2 separate regions of the Homo sapiens genome follow, and region 1 is linked to region 2. Evidence: fine-mapped expression QTL. A gene starts in region 2. The other region holds a variant in brackets. All regions are shown on one strand. Distances are between the middles of the regions. Region 1 holds the start of LOC124902603 (a long non-coding RNA gene). Region 2 holds the start of IFITM5 (interferon induced transmembrane protein 5).

Region 1 (8,321 bases), 360 kb before region 2:
TTGGCCAGGCTGGTGTTGAACCCCTGACCTCCGGTGATCCACCTGTCTCGGCCTTCCAAAGTGCTGGGATTACAGGCATGAGCCTCGGTGCCTGGCCTTTTATCTGGAATTTAAAAAAAAAAAAAATCAAATGTAGCCCAGCTGAAGCTATTAAGGGGATTGTTGCCAGCTTTAACCATGGGAAATCTGCATTCGTGTGTATGTAATGAGCTCTGCAGAGATTCAACAAGGCAGAAAAGCAGATGCCCTTGGCTGTCAAGGGCACAGTGTCCAGTGGAAGCCAGCCGAGTGGCTGCAGGGTCTTGGACTCACTGCCCTGGCCCCGGCTTGTTGTTGGCCATGCTGCCCTGAGCGCAAACCCCATTCCTCTAGCCTGTCCCCGTTTCTAGTAGCTCGCTCTCAGGCTTTCTCCAGTCTCCCTAACTTCCTTTTAAAGTGTTAAATATAGTACAGCACAGAAGGGTATGAAAGGGAGAAGAATACGTAAGTTGGACAGTAACAATGTCCTTGACTCCTAGGAAGCTCAGAAATAGGTCTGTGCTGTGCCTGGATGGTGCCTCCGTGCCTGGGGATCTGGAAGGGTGGAGACAGACCCCAGAGCAGCCGCTTCCCTGCGGGGGCCTCTCCCAACACCGTAAGGCCGCGGGTGCCTCAAGCAGCGCCGAGAGGGGCTTGTGTTTCAGTGACATTTCCTTGAAGTCCAGGTATGGGGTTTCTGTAAATGAAGGCTTTTGCCTGCCTTGTTCTCCAGTGTCAGCCTAACACTCACGTGAGCCAAATAGGCCCGGCCAGACCCAAGACAGCTCAGTCACCTGTTCCGCATCAAACATCAGATTCCAGAGCCGGACTGGACCAACGTCCTGCCGTGGCCCAGTGAGCGAGGGTTGCTGGCGTCTTTGGGATACTCGGGAGCAGCCCGCCATCCCCGTGTCCCCAGGGAACTCTTCAGAGCACCCCCCAGCAGCGTGGAAGCCCCCGGAAATGCAGGCTTGGAGTCCCCCGAGGGAGCCAGGGGTGTTGTGGTGGGAGGGGCGGCCAGGTGCCCGGGACGGGGTGAGGCGGCGCCGGCGGGGCAGCCTGGGAAAAGCACAGAGGTGGCTTTGCAGTCCCACTTCAGGGGGACCCTGCCTGACCTGGGATGAGGTGTGTGGGCTTTCTGGGGCAGGGGCGGGGACAGGTTGTAAATCTGAATTTGTCTGATGCTTCCTCAGAGATCTGTATCATGGTCATTTCATAGAAACGGCAAACTCTGTCCCAGCTCAAAAAGATGCTATTAGACTAATCCTTTGATCTCTTTACGTGTGCGGCTCAGCTTTCAGATAAACCTGCTTGATGTTTTGAGGGTTTTCTCTTATTTCCGTTGCTTCCTCGAGGGAGAGTAATCCAGTCTAATTTGCATTTCTCTTACTTTTAAGCTGAGCTGCTGCGCCCTCACGGGACACAGTCATGGGGAGCCCTCTGCCCCATGGTGGGCATTGGTGAAGCCACAGTGGTCCCGGGGGCAGACCTCAAGGGTGCACAGCAGCAGCCCCTTGGGCCCTGCCTGCCCAAGCCCCACCTGGCCCCACCTGCCCTGTGTTGGGGACTTTGTATTTCAGCCTCCATGCAGGGTGACGCTGGGACTCCCCAGCTTCCGGTTCACGGCTTCAGGGTCCAGCAGGTTCTCCTGAAGCCCCATCTACCGCTGGCTTCCTGCTCACTCTCCCCTCTCCCGCTCTGTCTCTCCAGAGGAGGCCGGGCCTGTGGAATTAGGCGGCTGCTTCACCTGAACTCACTGCAGTGCCGGGAAAGGAGCCTCTGGAACTAGACCCAGGAGCGGATCTGCAAAGGCTACTCAGGGTTCTCCCAGCGGCTCTGAACCCCGAGGCCAACTCGCCCTCCAATCACCTGGCCCCTGAAGCAGGCGGAGGCCCCTGTGCACAGTGGGCCTGTGGCCCCATTTGGTTCAGGAGTGATGGTGACACGGAGTTGGCTCCATCGAGGCTCCTGGCAGCATTACATCCTCTAAGAATAAGTCATAAAGAAAGCACTCCTTGTAAGATACACGATCCACCAGGCTGCCTCCAACCACAGCCTCATCTCCATCCGGGGTGTGTCTAGGTTTTCTTTTTTATTATTATTTTTTATCATTTGAGACATGTTCTCCCTCTGTCACCCAGGCTGGAGTGCACTGGTGTGACCTCAGCTCACTGCAACCTCCACCTCCCAGGCTCAAGCAATCCTCCCACCTCAGCCTCTCTGGTAGCTAAGAGGTGCATGCCACCATGCCCAGCTAATTTTTTTTTTTTTTTTTTTTGTAGAGACAGGGTTTTGCCATGTCACCTAGGCTGGCCTTAAACTCTTGGGCTCAAGCGATGCTCCCGCCTCGGCCTCCCAAAGTGCTGGGATTACAGGTGTAGCCACCATGCCTGGCCAGTATCTAGGTTTTCAAGTTAGACTTAGTTTTATTTGCAGAAAGAATAATGAATACATTATTAACTTATTCTTTGATAGTTAGAAATTAATAGGCATTTTATATGTGATCTTATGGTCTTACTCTTGGTTGGCTGTTTCTGAAGGAGTGGCTTTGTTATCTGTAATTTGTCTAATTTAAAAATCAATTATAATGAAACCAGCATATGTGATTCACAAGGCTTTTTTCCACCTGGACCAGAGTACACCAGCTATTGCATTGCCAAAAGTAGGTGTGTTCCTGTTGTGTGATGTGCAGATGGGGGGCCCCTGCAGCAGGGAAGGCAGGCCAGGAAACCCCTTCGCAGTCTCTGCTGAGGGGCTGGACCCGCTGCTTGGGCGGGACTCCCCGCAGGGTGCTCTGCTGCAGTCTCCTCCTCTGCCCGCCTGCGGCCCAGAGAACTCTGAATGCTAATGGCAATGCCAGCTGCTTGGCAGCATGAGCTTCTTGGGGCGCCTGGGCAGGCCTGGGCACTTCTGCCCTTTGTGCCATCCGCAGTCCTGTGATTTCCTGACAGTTTCCTGAAAGCGCAGAATGGGACTTGTCGATGTCCTTGGCTGCGGAAACGCGGTGTCTTGTCCTAACCTTCTGCAACGCACACACACCTCTTCCGCAGTAATGAATGGTTTTTTGTTTTTGTTTTTGAGACAGAGTCTAGCTCTGTCACCCAGGCTGGAGTGCAGTGGCGCGTTCTCGGCTCACTGCAAGCTCCACCTCCTGGGTTCATGCCATTCTCCTGCCTTAGCCTCGCGAGTAGCCGGGAGTACAGGCACCCGCCAACACGCCTGGCTAATTTTTTTGTATTTTTAGTAGAGACAGGGTTTCACCGTGTTAGCCAGGATGGTCTCGATCTCCTGACCTCGTGATCCGCCTGCCTCAGCCTCCCAAAGTGCTGGGATTACAGGCGTGAGCCACCGTGCCCGGCTAATGAATGGTTATTTTAAAAAATAAACGTATTTCGGGATAATTTTAGGTTTACAGAAAAGTTGCAAAGTGAGCGCAGAGGGTCCCTTCTGCCACTCCGCAGCCTCCCCTCTGTAACTTCAAAGCCCACAGGGCATGGCTGTTGTAGCTGAGAAACCGTCGCTGGGTGTCCCTGTGAACTCCGGACTTTGAATTTCACTATCAATGTCCTGTTTCTGCTCTAGGACCTTGTCCCCGCTGCCACCTGTGGGAGACAGCCTCCCGTGCACCATTTGCCCAGCACCCTCAGGCCTGTGACGGTCTCTCAGTCTTTCCTTGTCTTCCATGCCCTGCAGTTCTGAGAGGGCCTGGCCAGGCAGTTTGTCCAGGTGCCCCGATCCAGGCTTGTCTTGTGCTTTCTCGTGGGGGTGGACGACAGGTTTCAGGGAGGGGTGCTGCCGCCTGTCTCACCCCACTGTGGCGTCCCTGACATCCAAGTGACATTACAGACAGCTCTGACCTTCCTCACCAGAGTCAGGTGTCTGTAGGTGTCTCCTTGGTGACAGGACTGCTTCTCCCTTTGCACATTTAGTCAGGCAGCAAGTCCACGGCCGTGGGGGGGCTTCTCCTAGACGGGAGGATCTGGAATAGCTTGGACTTGTATTTATTTATTTGATCATTTGTTTGTATCCGGATGGGCTCATTTTATATGTGTTTTAAACTCTGAGCTAGAAGGCAACACTACTTTCTTGTGAAGCACACCATCTGTCCTTGGCCCTAGGGAGCTCCTGCCGTCGGCTCCTGGGTCCCCTGATGCACCCCTTTCAACAGACTTTTCATTTTGGGGTACGTCCTGACTTCCTGGCACTGCAGGGTGCTCCAGCCTCCTCTTGCATTCCCTGCCCTGGCCCGGGAATCAGCCCCTTCTCCAAGGAGCCCCGGGTCCTTTTATTGGCAAGTCTTAAGAGAGTGAGGCCTGGGTGCCAGGCAGGGAGCCCCAGGTCCTTTTATTGGGAAGTCTTAGAGAGTGAGGCCTGGGTGCCAGGTGGGTGCCAGGTGGGTCCGGTGCTGCTGGGATGTTGTCACGTGGAGGCCCTCAGCTGCAGAGCAGGGACGAGGGTGTCACCTGTTCAGCTGCAGAGCAGGGATGAGGGTGTCACCTGTGTGTATGAACATCTCCGCAGCCACTTCTGTATCTGTGAAGAGAACATGAGTTCATGCTACTGCCT[C/T]TGACTCTAATTCAGACCCCAAAGCTCCTTCTAACCTTCCTAGAACGTTATTTTTCAGTTTAAAAAAAAAAAAAAGTTTTGCAAAGGGCATACCGCGAAAGGCCCAAGTGGTTGAAAGTCCCAGCTGAGGCTGAAGAGGCGCCTGCGAGGCAACAGGACAGGCTTCCCGTTCAGTTCAGGGGTGCTGTCCTCCAGGAACTATGCTGGGGGGCAAGTACAGGACGTCCTGGTGTGTGGTGCACAGGGACTGCTGGACACGGAGACCCGTGCCCTTCTCAGCGTGGGGGCCGCTCCCCGGGACAGTGACCACGCTCCCGCCAGCCTCCCACCCCACCTGACCTCTGTCTGTGAGGGGCTGGACCAGGGTCCTGCCTGGCCCGGCCATCCACAGAGCAACCCAGAATGTTAATAAAGCCTGCAGAAGCTGTGTTCTCCTTCGAGAAGCTTCTCTGTGGTTACAGACTTTTTAAGAAATATTTTGTCGGCTGGGCTTGGTGGCTCATGCCTGTAATCCCAGCATTTTGGGAGGCCAAGGCAGGCGGATCACCTGAGGTCAGGAGTTTCCGAGACCAGCCTGGCCAACAGGGCAAAACCCCGTCTCTACTAAAAATACAAAAATTAGCCAGGCATGGTGGCAAGCGCCTATAATCCCAGCTACTTGAGAGGCTAAGGTGGAAGCATTGCTCGAATCTGGAAGGTGGTGGTTGCAATGAGCTGAGATCGTGCCACTGCACTCCAGGCTGGGCGACAGAGCGAGACTCCATCTCAAAAAAAAAAAAAAAGTTTGTCATTTAAAGTAGAGGCACAGGCCAGGCGCGGTGGCTCATGCCTGTAATCCCAGCACTTTGGGGGGCCGACTCAGGTGGATCATTTGAGGTCAGGAGCTCGAGACCAGCCTGACCAATATGGTGAAACCCCATCTGTACTAAAAATACAAAAAAATTAGCCAGGCGTGGTGGTCCGTGCCTGTAGTCCCAGCTGTGGGGAGGCTGAGGCACAAGAATCACTTAAACCCAGGAGGTGGAGGTTGCAGTGAGCCGAGATTGCGCCACTACACTCCAGCCTGGGCGACAGAGTGAGACTCCATCTCAAAAAAATAATAATAATAATAAATAAATAAAGTAGAGGCAGGGGGCAACCTAAATTAGCACCAAAATTCCTCCTAATGCTCCTGTTTTCTGAAGTGAGTGACTGAATGTCGGAGCTCTGAATGTCTTACAACTGGAAAAATGTTAAAGATCACGTTTGCGAAGGAGGGAGGCAAGCATCAGAACAGAACCTCGGAGCAGGTCTGCACGCGTGCAGGGGCCGTGGGGCCGCGCTGGAGTCGTTTCCTGTGCTGCTCTGTGCTGCTCACAGACGCTGCCACTCACCCACTGGCCACGGCCCCTCCCGCAGCTGCGGATGATCTGGGCGCATAGCGGGCGTGCAGGTCGCGGCGCCAAGGCCTCTCCTAGGCCCAGTGGTCTTCTCCGTCTCAGAGAGCATTGACGGCGGAGCTCACAACTGTCAAGCACCTTAGTCATGCCGCAAACATTAATCATTGACAGCATGTTGACCTATGCGCTGATTAAAAAGAAAAGCTCCAATAATGTAATTCCAGGAGAAAGTACACAAACCTCTGGTGGCATCTTTTCAATCCACCACAGAAACCAGCTCAGGTGGGGCCGTGGGGGTGTTGGCTGGGGCACCGCCGCAGCAGTTTGGGACACATGCCTGCCACGGTGCGCCCAGGCTGATGCCCACAGCCCTGCTCAGGAGTGTTGGGAGCGGTGGACTCCTGAGTTTGATTTTCTGTGCTGGCCTGGCTGGAGTGAAGCTCCTTGGAGTTTGGAGAAAGATTTCCATGCTGATTTCCCTTTGTTTTTGTTTGTTTGTTTGTTTGTTTGTTTTGGAGACAGTCTTGCTCTGTCGCCCAGGCTGGAGTGCAATGGTACAATCTCGGGGTTTCACCGTGTTAGCCAGGATGGTCTCGATCTCCTAACTTCGTGATCCGCCCACCTCAGCCTCCTAAAGTGCTGGGATTACAGGCATGAGCCACTGCATCCGGCCCTGATTTCCCTTTTTTTTTGAGATGGGAGTCTCGCTCTGTCACCCAGGCTGGAGTGCAGTAGTGCAATCTCGGTTCACTGCAACCTCCGCCTCCTGGGTGCAAGCTATTCTCCCACCTCAGCCTCCCAGGTAGCTGGGATTACAGGTGGCCACCACCACACCCAGCTAATTTTTGTATTTTTAGTAGAGACTGGGTTTCGCAACGTTGCCTGTGCTGAACTCCTGACCTCAGGTGATCCACCCGCCTCGGCTGCCCAAAGTCCTGGGATTACAGGTATGAGCCGCTGCTCCCGGCCCATACTGGTCTTCCAGTGAATGAATGTAGGGGGCAAACTGCACTGAGGCCAGGAAAGAGCTGATTCTGGAGGTGACAAGAACGTTCTGAGCAGCACTGGGGCAGAGGCGCAGTCAAGAGTCCAATGGGAGCTGGGCGCAGTGGCTCACGCCTGTAATCCCAGCACTTTGGGAGGCCGAGGCAGGTGGATCACGAGGTCAGAGGTTCAAGACCAGCCTGACCAACATGGTGAAACCCTGTCTCTACTAAAAATACACAAATTAGCTGGGCGTGGTGTCAGGCACCTATCATCCCAGACTCAGGAGGCTGAGACAGGAGAATTGCTTGAACCCAGGAGGCGGAAGTTGCAGTGAGCTGAGATCGCACCACGGCACTCCAGCCTGGGCGACAGAGTGAGACTCCATCTCAAAAAAAAAAAAAAAAAAAAAGGGGGTCCAATGGGGGGAACTTGGGGCCTCCTGCCTGCACCTGCCTCTGTCCCCGGTGTCTCAGGGGCTCTCCACGGCCACGTCACTGACTGGCCTGTTGTGTCCTTCTTGCAGCAGTCCTGCGTTAACTGCGGCCGGGAGGCTATGAGCGAGTGCACCGGCTGCCACAAGGTCAACTACTGCTCCACCTTCTGCCAACGCAAGGTAGGTCTCACCTACACCAGGCTCAGTGCCCCCGCCTCCTCCCTCGCTACGAAGACCCCTGGGTGGCCCTCCCTCCCCTTGTGCTCCTGGTGCCACACCTGACTCCCCTCCCTGTCCCTCCCTCTGGGAATCCGGGGCTCCTGCCTGGCTCCGTGAAGACCCTGCAGAAGGCTCACATGTGACATGGCCAGGTAGTGCTCTCATGTGAGGCCCCACAGTTGGTGGCCGGAAACCCTGAGGGCTGCTGGTCAGTGCTTCCCAGCCCTCCACACCCCTGCACAGCCACGCAAGAGAGACTGTCCACAGTTCCATTATTGAGCCCTCCACACCCCTGCAGAGCCACGTGAGAGAGACTGTCCACAGTTCCTCTATTATTCAGCCCTCCACACCCCTGCAGAGCCACGCAAGAGAGACTGTCCACAGTTCCTCTATTATTGAGCCCTCCACACCCCTGCAGAGCCACGCGAGAGAGACTGTCCACAGTTCTTCTATTATTGAGCCCTCCACACCCCTGCAGAGCCACGCGAGAGAGACTGTCCACAGTTCCTCTATTATTGAGCCCTCCACACCCCTGCAGAGCCACGCGAGAGAGAGCGTCCACAGTTCCTCTATTATTGAGCCCTCCACACCCCTGCAGAGCCACGCGAGAGAGAGACTGTCCACAGTTCCTCTATTATTGAGCCCTCCACACCCCTGCAGAGCCACGCGAGAGACAGCGTCCACAGTTCCTCTATTATTCAGCCCTCCGCTCCACAGAA
Region 2 (8,297 bases):
CCAGGGGGACAAGCCGGTGACCTATGAGGACGCACACGCGCCGCACTTCGTCGCCCGCCGTGAGGGCCAGAGGTCGCTCACGCGGGGAACCCTGGTGGGGAGGACCATGCGGCGGAGCGAACGGTGGAGGATGCTTTCCGTCGCAAGTTCATGTGGGGTGCCTTCCCGGGCTGCCTGGCTGACCCGCTGGTTTTACAGTGCTGGGCCAACCGGTTGGAGATCTGTGCCCTGGTCCCGAGGCACTTGCCTGCCCGCAAGTTCTACTTCCTCGTGGGCTACAGTGAAACTTTGCTGTCCCACTTTTACAAATGTCCTCTGCCACTCCACCTCCAAACTGTGCCCTCAAAGGTTGTGTATAAGGACCTGTAGGACGATCCCTTTCTTTTGCATCAAGCTGTAGCCTGCAGAGAAGGGAAACGTGGGAAAGAAGTGGTACGCCGGGGGGAAAGGCGTCCCTCAAGAGGACTGAGGCATGGTCTCTCAGCTGCTATCCAATAAAGACCCTCTATGTTGTCTTGAAAAAAAAAATGCAAGGCACCTCAGTTCTGAGAAATCGTCACCTTCTTGCAAGAATCTTCATGATACTCCCCCGCTTGGTGAAAGAAACCCTGAAAGATGGAACCCCCACCCAAACCCCTTGCAAGTGACTCTCTCGAGTCTCCGCCCACACGGCCCTTTCTTGAGTGTGTACTTTTCACTTCTCTTTTTTTTCTTTCTTTCTTTTTTTTTTGAGAGGGAGCCTCGCTCTGTCGCCCAGACTGGAGTGCAGTGGCGCGATCTCATCTCACTGCAACTTCTGCCTACCCGGTTCAAGTGATTCTCCTGCCTCAGCCTCCCGATTAGCTGGGATCACAGGCACGCACCACCGCGCCCGGCTAATTTTTGCATTTTTAGTAGAGACAGGGTTTCGCCATGTTGGCCAGGCTGATCTCGAACTCCTGACCTCAGGTGATACACCCGCCTCAGCCTCCCAAAGTGCTGGGATTACAGGCGCGAGCCACCGCGCCTGGCCTTCACTTTTCAACAAATCTCCCTACTTTCACTATTTTCGGTCTCGTCCTTGAATTTTCTTCTTGTGCCAAGAGCCTGGACACCCGTGGGGGTCCAGGTCCCACTGGCAATTGGGGACCTCCCCAAGCCCACTGGTATCACTGTGACCTGTGACCACACCCCTTTGAGATGTCTTGCCTTTCCTGGCAGAAGCAATGTACACCTTACTCGTGAGGACTAAACTCTGACTTTTTTATCTTGCCCAAGTTCCTATCAAAGGGGTCTGGGGAATTTACCTACAAATGGTAAATTCTCATCAGATGAGTTTTGGTTTTCGTTTGTTTGTTTTGTTTTTGTATTTTCAGTAGAGACAGGTTTCACCACGTTGGCCAGGCTGGTCTCGAACTCTTGACCTCAGGTGATCTGCCTGCCGCGGCCTCCCAAAGTGCTGGGATTACAGGCATGAGCCACCATGCCCGGCCAACCAGATGAGTTTTATTTAACCCTATATATCGTGACTTACTTTCCAACCTGACTCTGGCATAACATTATGAAACAAGGAAGAAAATCAAAATACCCCAAAAACATGTTTCTTTGCCATATTTTGAAATGGCCCCTGCATAGCTGTTCTTTGTGGGGGAAAATTTGCATCTGTAAAGAATCTCAGTTAACATAGCCAGATCTTTTTCTTCCAGACCCTCCCAATCCTGAAGAGATTAATTAAGATATGAATAGGAAATATTGGTCACCTATTGTCTCTAAGGGCAGCCACTATAAGACTTCAAAAGAACTTTGGTTTCCACAATCTTTATTTTTTATTTATTTATTTTTTTGAGACGGAGTCTCTCGCTTTGTCACCCAGGCTGGAGTGCAATGGCACGATCTGATCTTGGCTCACTGCAACCTCCGCCTCCCGGGTTCAAGCGATTCTCCTGCCTCAGCCTCCTGAGTAGCTGGAATTTCAGGCACCCACCACCACGCCTGGCTAATTTTTGTATTTTTAGTAGAGATGGGGTTTCACCATGTTGGTCAGGGTGGTCACGAACTCCTGACCTCATGATTCACCCGCCTCGGCCTCCCAAAGTGCTGAGACTACAGGCGTGAGCCACCTCGCCTGGCCCTTTTTTTTTTTTTTTTTTTTTTTTTTGAGATGGAGTTTTGCTCTTGTTGCCCAGGCTGGAGTGCAATGGCGCGATCTCGGTTCACCGCAACCTCCGCCTCCTGGGTTCAAGTGATTCTCATGCCTCAGCCTCCTGAGTAGCTGGGATTACAGGCATGCGCCACCACGCCTGGCTAATTTTGTATTTTTAGTACAGACGGGGCTTCTCCATGTTGGTCACGCTGGTCTCGAACTCCTGACCTTGTGATCTGCCCGCCTTGGCCTCCCAAAGTGCTGGGATTACAGGCATGAGCCACCGCACCCGGCCACAATCTTGATCTTAACCTGAACACTCCTTTTCTACCAATCCCAAGTCTTTAGACAAGCTCAACCAATTGTCAACAAGAAAATGTTTAAACTCACCTATAGCCTGGAACACCGCTGCCCCTCCCCCCACCCCCCCCACCCCCAGCTTTGTGTTGTCCCGCCTTTCTGGACCAAACCAATGTATTTCTTAAATGTATTTGATTGATACCTCATGTCTCCCTAAAATGTATAAAACCAAGCTGTGCCCTGAGCCCCTTGGGTATATGTTCTCAGGACCTCCTGAGGGCCGCACCACAGGCCATGGTCACTCATATTTGGCTCAGAATAAATCTCTTCAAATATTTCGCAGAGTTGGACTCTTTTCGTTGACACTTGTATTGATCTATGTCTTTGCCTGCAACTTCTGTCTCCCTACAATGTATAAAACCAAGCTGTAGCCCAGCCACCTTTGGCACGTTTGCTGGAACTCTGGAGGCTGTATCATGAGCCGTGGTCAGTCATATTCGGCGTAGGACAAACCTCTTTAAATACTTTACAGAGTTAGCTTTTTTCATCCTGACCAACATGGTGAAACCCCGTCTCGACTGCAAATACAAAAACTAGCCGGGCGTGGTGGCGGGAGCCCGTAGTGCCAGCGGCTCGGGAGGCTGAGGCAGGAGAATCGCTTGAACCCGGGAGGCGGAGGTTGCCGTGAGCCAAAATCACGCCACTGCACTCCAGCCTGGGCGACAGAGTGAGACTCTGTCTCACAAAAAAAAAAAAAAAAACAAAAACAAAAGAAAAAAAGTCACCCCTCTGCTCACTGAGGTGAATGCATATATCTGGTTGCCTCCTTTGGAGAAGCAAGTCAGAAACTCAAAAGAATGCAACCTTTGTCTCTTATCTACCTGCGACCGGGAAGCGCCTCCCCACTTCGAGTCTTCCCTGCCTTGCTTTGCATTGTCCTGCCTTTCCAGACTGAACCAATGTTCATCTTACATATGTTGACTGATGTCTCCTGTGTCCCTAGAATGTATAAAACCAAACTGTGCTCCGACCACCTTGGGTACAGATCCTCAGGAGCTCCAGAGGCTGTCACAGGCACATCCTCAATCTTGGCAAAATAATCTAAATTAACCGAGACCTGTCTCAGATATTTGGGGTTCACAGGCTCAAGCACAGCAGCAAGGAACCCCCCACCCAACCATCCCCTGCAGGTGGCGAGTGTGCGTCCTGGAGGAGGGAGGGCAGCTTGGTCCTGGGCACTCAGGAGTGTGGCCGACTGGGAGACGGGGAAGCTGAGCCTTCTGGCCCGGTGCAGTTGCCACCACTGCTCCGGGGAAGGCTTGGCAGAGGAGGTTGGGAGGGAGGATCCAGGGTCTATTGTTGGCACGTGGGTGGAGGTCCACAGAGCAGGAGTTGCGTGTGTGTGTCCAGAGCTGGGGACCAAGCCAATGTCTTTGGGGGGAAGTCTGGGCTGAAGACATAAATGTGAGTCGTCAGCACACACAGGCATCTACAGCCAGAGACAAGACTGGGGCGGACCTTGAGCCCTAAACAGGACCACTCACCACAGACATTCTGGGATCAGGGAGGGCAGCCGAGGAGGCTGAGGGGAGTGTCCACCACAGGAGCCCACAGGCTCCCTGCATCCCGACACCAGTGTTAACAGCTGTTGCTGGTCCCTGGGGGTTCCCCTGCCGGCTCCTAACAGGCTGCACCCCCTGGCTTTCCCCCCATGTGGTTCTCTCCTTCTCTCTCGCGCCCTCCTCCGACAGCCGCCCTCCCTGTCCCCCTTGCAGGGATGCCTGCGCTCCTAGGGCCTGGCGCTGGTGCTCTGAGAGTGTTAGGGGCAGAGTTGAGTTCTGGGAATGAAGGGGCTGCAGTTTCAGCAGCTCTGGTTCTGAGGAGGGGGCTCCTGTACATCCCTGAATTATGAGGCCCATGGCCCTGAGGCGACACCTCCAACTCTTCTTGGCCTGGACGGAGGGGGCTCTGGCCAGTGGTCTGCCCACTGCCCACTTGGCCAGCAGCCTTTGATGGGGGTGGGGGGATGGGTGGGGGTCTCTGCCACTGCCCGGCCGTAGCCTTCCAAGCGGGGGGCTCCCAGATGGGATGTCTGTCAGGAGGGACCCTGCTGGGTGGTCCAAGGCAGCCTCGGACAGGGGCTCCCTGGGGTGGGGGCTAAGGGGCGGGCCGCACCCTCGGCCCGCAGGCTGTAATTTGTGTTATATATAGCGTTGAGGGGCTGGGCCGGGAGGGCGACAGGGCTATAAGTGAGCGGGTGCCCACCCTCCCAGCACCAGTCTGAGTGTGGAAGAGACGGCGCTGGAACCCATGGACACGGCGTATCCCCGCGAGGACACCCGGGCCCCCACGCCCAGCAAGGCCGGTGCCCACACAGCCCTCACACTGGGGGCCCCGCACCCCCCGCCTCGAGACCACTTGATCTGGTCGGTGTTCAGCACCCTCTACCTGAATCTGTGTTGCCTCGGCTTCCTGGCGCTGGCCTACTCCATCAAGGTGGGCAGGGGCCCTACCGAGGTTGCGGGGGAGGCTCCACTACTCCATCAAGGTGGGGGGAAGGGGGAGGGATGGGGAGCTCCGTGGGGGGTCCTTGCCGTGCTGGGGGCCGCGGGGGGCTCTGCTTGTCCGTGAGGGGCTCTGTGGGCACAGCTATCAGTATGGCCGGGAAAGAGCTCCTCACGAAGGCAAGGCCGGGGGGCCTCTTCTTAACGGGGTCTGGCCCATCCAAGAGCACAGAGGCCATTGGGAGGCACCCACAGAGGTCTCTGCAATCAAGAGGGGGTTCACATGCTGTGGGCTTCTGGAACAGAGGTCCCTTTGACTTCAGCTCCTGGCTGGCAGGGTGGGGGGTGTCTCAGCACCCTGGGGGACCCTCACCCATAGAGAGCTCTGATAGGCTGACACTGGCCTGGGATGGCCCCCGGGTCCATAGCTGGGGCCCCAAGGAGTATCTCCTCAGGCCACACCCCTCCATCCAGATTTTGGGTGCAGTAGGGGCCTTCCAGGTGCCCAGGGTGTGGGTGGGGAAGGGCCCCCAGGCCCCGAGGACACATAGAGATCTGGCCCTGTGGTCTGGTCTCTCTGCAGGCCCGAGATCAGAAGGTGGTTGGTGACCTGGAAGCGGCCCGGCGTTTTGGCTCCAAAGCCAAGTGCTACAACATCCTGGCCGCGATGTGGACGCTGGTGCCGCCACTGCTGCTCCTGGGGCTGGTGGTGACTGGTGCCCTGCACCTGGCCCGGCTGGCCAAGGACTCTGCCGCCTTCTTCAGCACCAAGTTTGATGACGCGGACTATGACTGACAGGCTGGGTCCTGATCTGGGGCACTAGCCCCAGGACACTGACCCCAGGCTGCTGCCCCTGGGGCCCAATACTGACTCCCCGGAGCCTGGCCCTCCTTCTGTGGGGCCTCCATCCCTGCCCCATCCTGATCCTGGGGCCCTCCAGCCCCAACATGGGCACCTAAGGCTGAACCAGTCAGACCCCGGGGTCTTCACCCTAACCCGAGAGTTCCCGGGCCCTAACTCTGCCCCCGATCCTGCCCCTCCCTCCTCACACTCCAGGCCCCTCGGTTCCACGATTAAAAGTGCCTGGTTCCAGAAAGTGCCTCCTGGCCTCTTTCCTGCCTAGCGTGGGGGAAGGAGCTGCCCTAGGGACCACCAAAGCCAAATGCCACAGGGCCAGCCCCCAGAGTCAGTGGCGGGAGCGCCCCCCGCAGCTCAGCAGCCCTGCTTGGCCCCAACTGTCCCCTTCTCTCAGCCACTGGGCGGCCTGTGGCTTACGGGGCGGAGGCCCAGAGTATTTTAGACTAAGTTTGAGAGCCCAGGCCTTTGATCTCTGCTGCTCTGTGGTTTAGCGGCCTGTGCTCCAGAACATCATGGGTGCGTCCCAACCCCACGTGTGTCCACCCCATCTCTCTGTGCGCATGTGTGTGCGTGCTCGAAGTCTGCGTGAGAGTCCGTGCCTGTGGGTGGGCTCCATCTGCGGTCTGGTGTACACCTCCTTCCTTTCTGGGTCATTCTGTCTGTCCCCATGACCCTGCGTGCCCCCTTAATTCTGAGAAATCCCAGTCCCCACGGTGGTTTCCCTCCCTCCTGGGCCAGTGAGGGTGGCTAGAAAGGCAGGGCGGGGACGATCCCATGGGTGGGGCTGGACACACACACAAACACATGTGGGAAGGATAGCAGCTTCCCTTTCTCTCTCACACACACACACACACACACACCCCAACCAAACTATATCCAGAAAGGCAGAAAATGGGCATGTGTGCAACATTCTCTGAGTCCCCTGGTGCTGGGTGCATGTTCTCATATTATTTTACCTGCGTTGTGTACCACAGCCTCCCCACACACCCACCACAGCCTGGTGATGGGAGAGGGCCAGGGACATGCACACTGCGAGGCTGCGGGGAGGCCCTGGGGCCTCGCTGAGGCCAGCCATTGCCGGGAGGTGGTGGTTAACAGCACAGTGGCCCAGGGTTCTGAGCACCCCACTCCGGGGCCCTTCCCTTCCCGGGGAATCGCCGTTGCCTGCCTGCTCTTCCTGGGCTGTGGGCAGGAATCTTTTGGTCTACTCGGAGCCCTGGGCAGCATCCCCTATCTGTGATATGCCTGCAGCCAACGGCTGGCGTGGCAGGGACTCTGAGGGCAGGCCCAGCCAGCCCTGGAGGCAGAGGTGTGTGGAGGCCATGCTGGGCGCTGGAGACAGACAGGACCAGTCCCACAGTGGACCAAGGACAAGGGCAGTGTGCCCACCTGTGCTTGCCTTGGGATAGAGACAGTGTGCCAGCCCTGAGCCTCAGGATTGGCCTGAGAAGGGATCAAACTGTGTCGGGTGCAGAGACTGGGAGGGGGTCAGCCCATGTGTGGCTGGATACGTGTCCCCAGAAAAGAGACGGTCTGCCAGTCCCCAGGCTTACTGAGGGGCAGGGACGACCTGGTCCATTCCCGGTGCTGTGGGTGAGCCACCTTGGGGGAACGGTCACCAGCACCTCCCTGCCTCAGGCTCAGGCTCCTGGGCAGGCGATGAACCCTGACCAGCCCTGCCGGCACACGTGCACTGACCATCACGACCCCCCCAAAAGGGTCACCTCAGGATGTGCAGAGGTGGCCCCACACGCGTGTGGCACGCACGTGCAGCAGGCTTCAGGCCATATCTCTCCTGCGGGCGCAAGGCTACCGACCACCCTGACTTGACACCTGTGCCCACATCACCCTGGCTCTGGGGCTGCAAAGATGAACTCCTGCTGGGGCAACCGTGGCCGGGAGAAGGGGCCCATGCTTCCCTCGGGGAACCTGCCTCTGCCTCTCGCTGCCCAGCGACAGCGTCGGATGGGACCCAGCTCTGCAGCTGAGGGAGCCTGTAGGGGCCGGGGGAGCCACGTGGAGGCGTCAGGCTGCATTCTGCGAGACTCCTGCCCGGCACTGGACTGCATGCCGGGCTGCCCCCTGACCCACAGCCCCTCTCCACTGTGGCCACGAGCCCCTGTGAGACTCCTGCCCGGCACTGGACTGCACGCCAGGCTGCCCCTGACCCACAGCCCCTCTCCACTGTGGTCATGAGCCCCTGCAAGACTCCTGCCCGGCACTGGACTGCACACTGGGCTGCCCTGACCCACGGCCCCTCTCCACTGTGGCCATGAGCCCCAGCAAGCAAGCTGCCATAAAACACGCAGTGTCCACAGGTCTCAGCCTTCTGCACCCTACACGGTTCCTGTCAGGGGAGCCGACCTCTGAGTGCTGGTCTCGGCCGCAGGTGTGCTGCAGCACATGCCTCCCCCACACGCTGCTTCTGGCAGCCGCTGAGGGTGGCAGAGACAGCAGACAGGCCTTGGGAGACCCAGGCATCCTGGCCCCCAGACCCTAGAGCTGCCTGAAA

What was found.
Region 1: its variant is fine-mapped to the expression of IFITM5 in minor salivary gland (GTEx, PIP above 0.99).

The regions. Positions count from the first base shown.
Region 1 is chr11:653,204-661,524 of GRCh38, reverse strand. It overlaps DEAF1 (DEAF1 transcription factor), which reads left to right. Exons shown (of 12, transcript NM_021008.4): 11 at 7,474-7,563. LOC124902603 (a long non-coding RNA gene) reads right to left here and starts at 6,502. Exons shown (of 2, transcript XR_007062543.1): 1 at 5,958-6,502; 2 at 2,421-4,551. The variant C/T (reference allele first, on the strand shown) is at 4,585.
Region 2 is chr11:295,926-304,222 of GRCh38, reverse strand. IFITM5 (interferon induced transmembrane protein 5) reads left to right here and starts at 4,697. Exons shown (of 2, transcript NM_001025295.3): 1 at 4,697-4,918; 2 at 5,510-6,023. The coding sequence starts at 4,733. The coding sequence ends at 5,722. It overlaps PGGHG (protein-glucosylgalactosylhydroxylysine glucosidase), which reads right to left. Exons shown (of 14, transcript NM_025092.5): 14 at 8,116-8,297. It also overlaps the pseudogene MRPS24P1. RefSeq lists an enhancer at 5,367-5,526.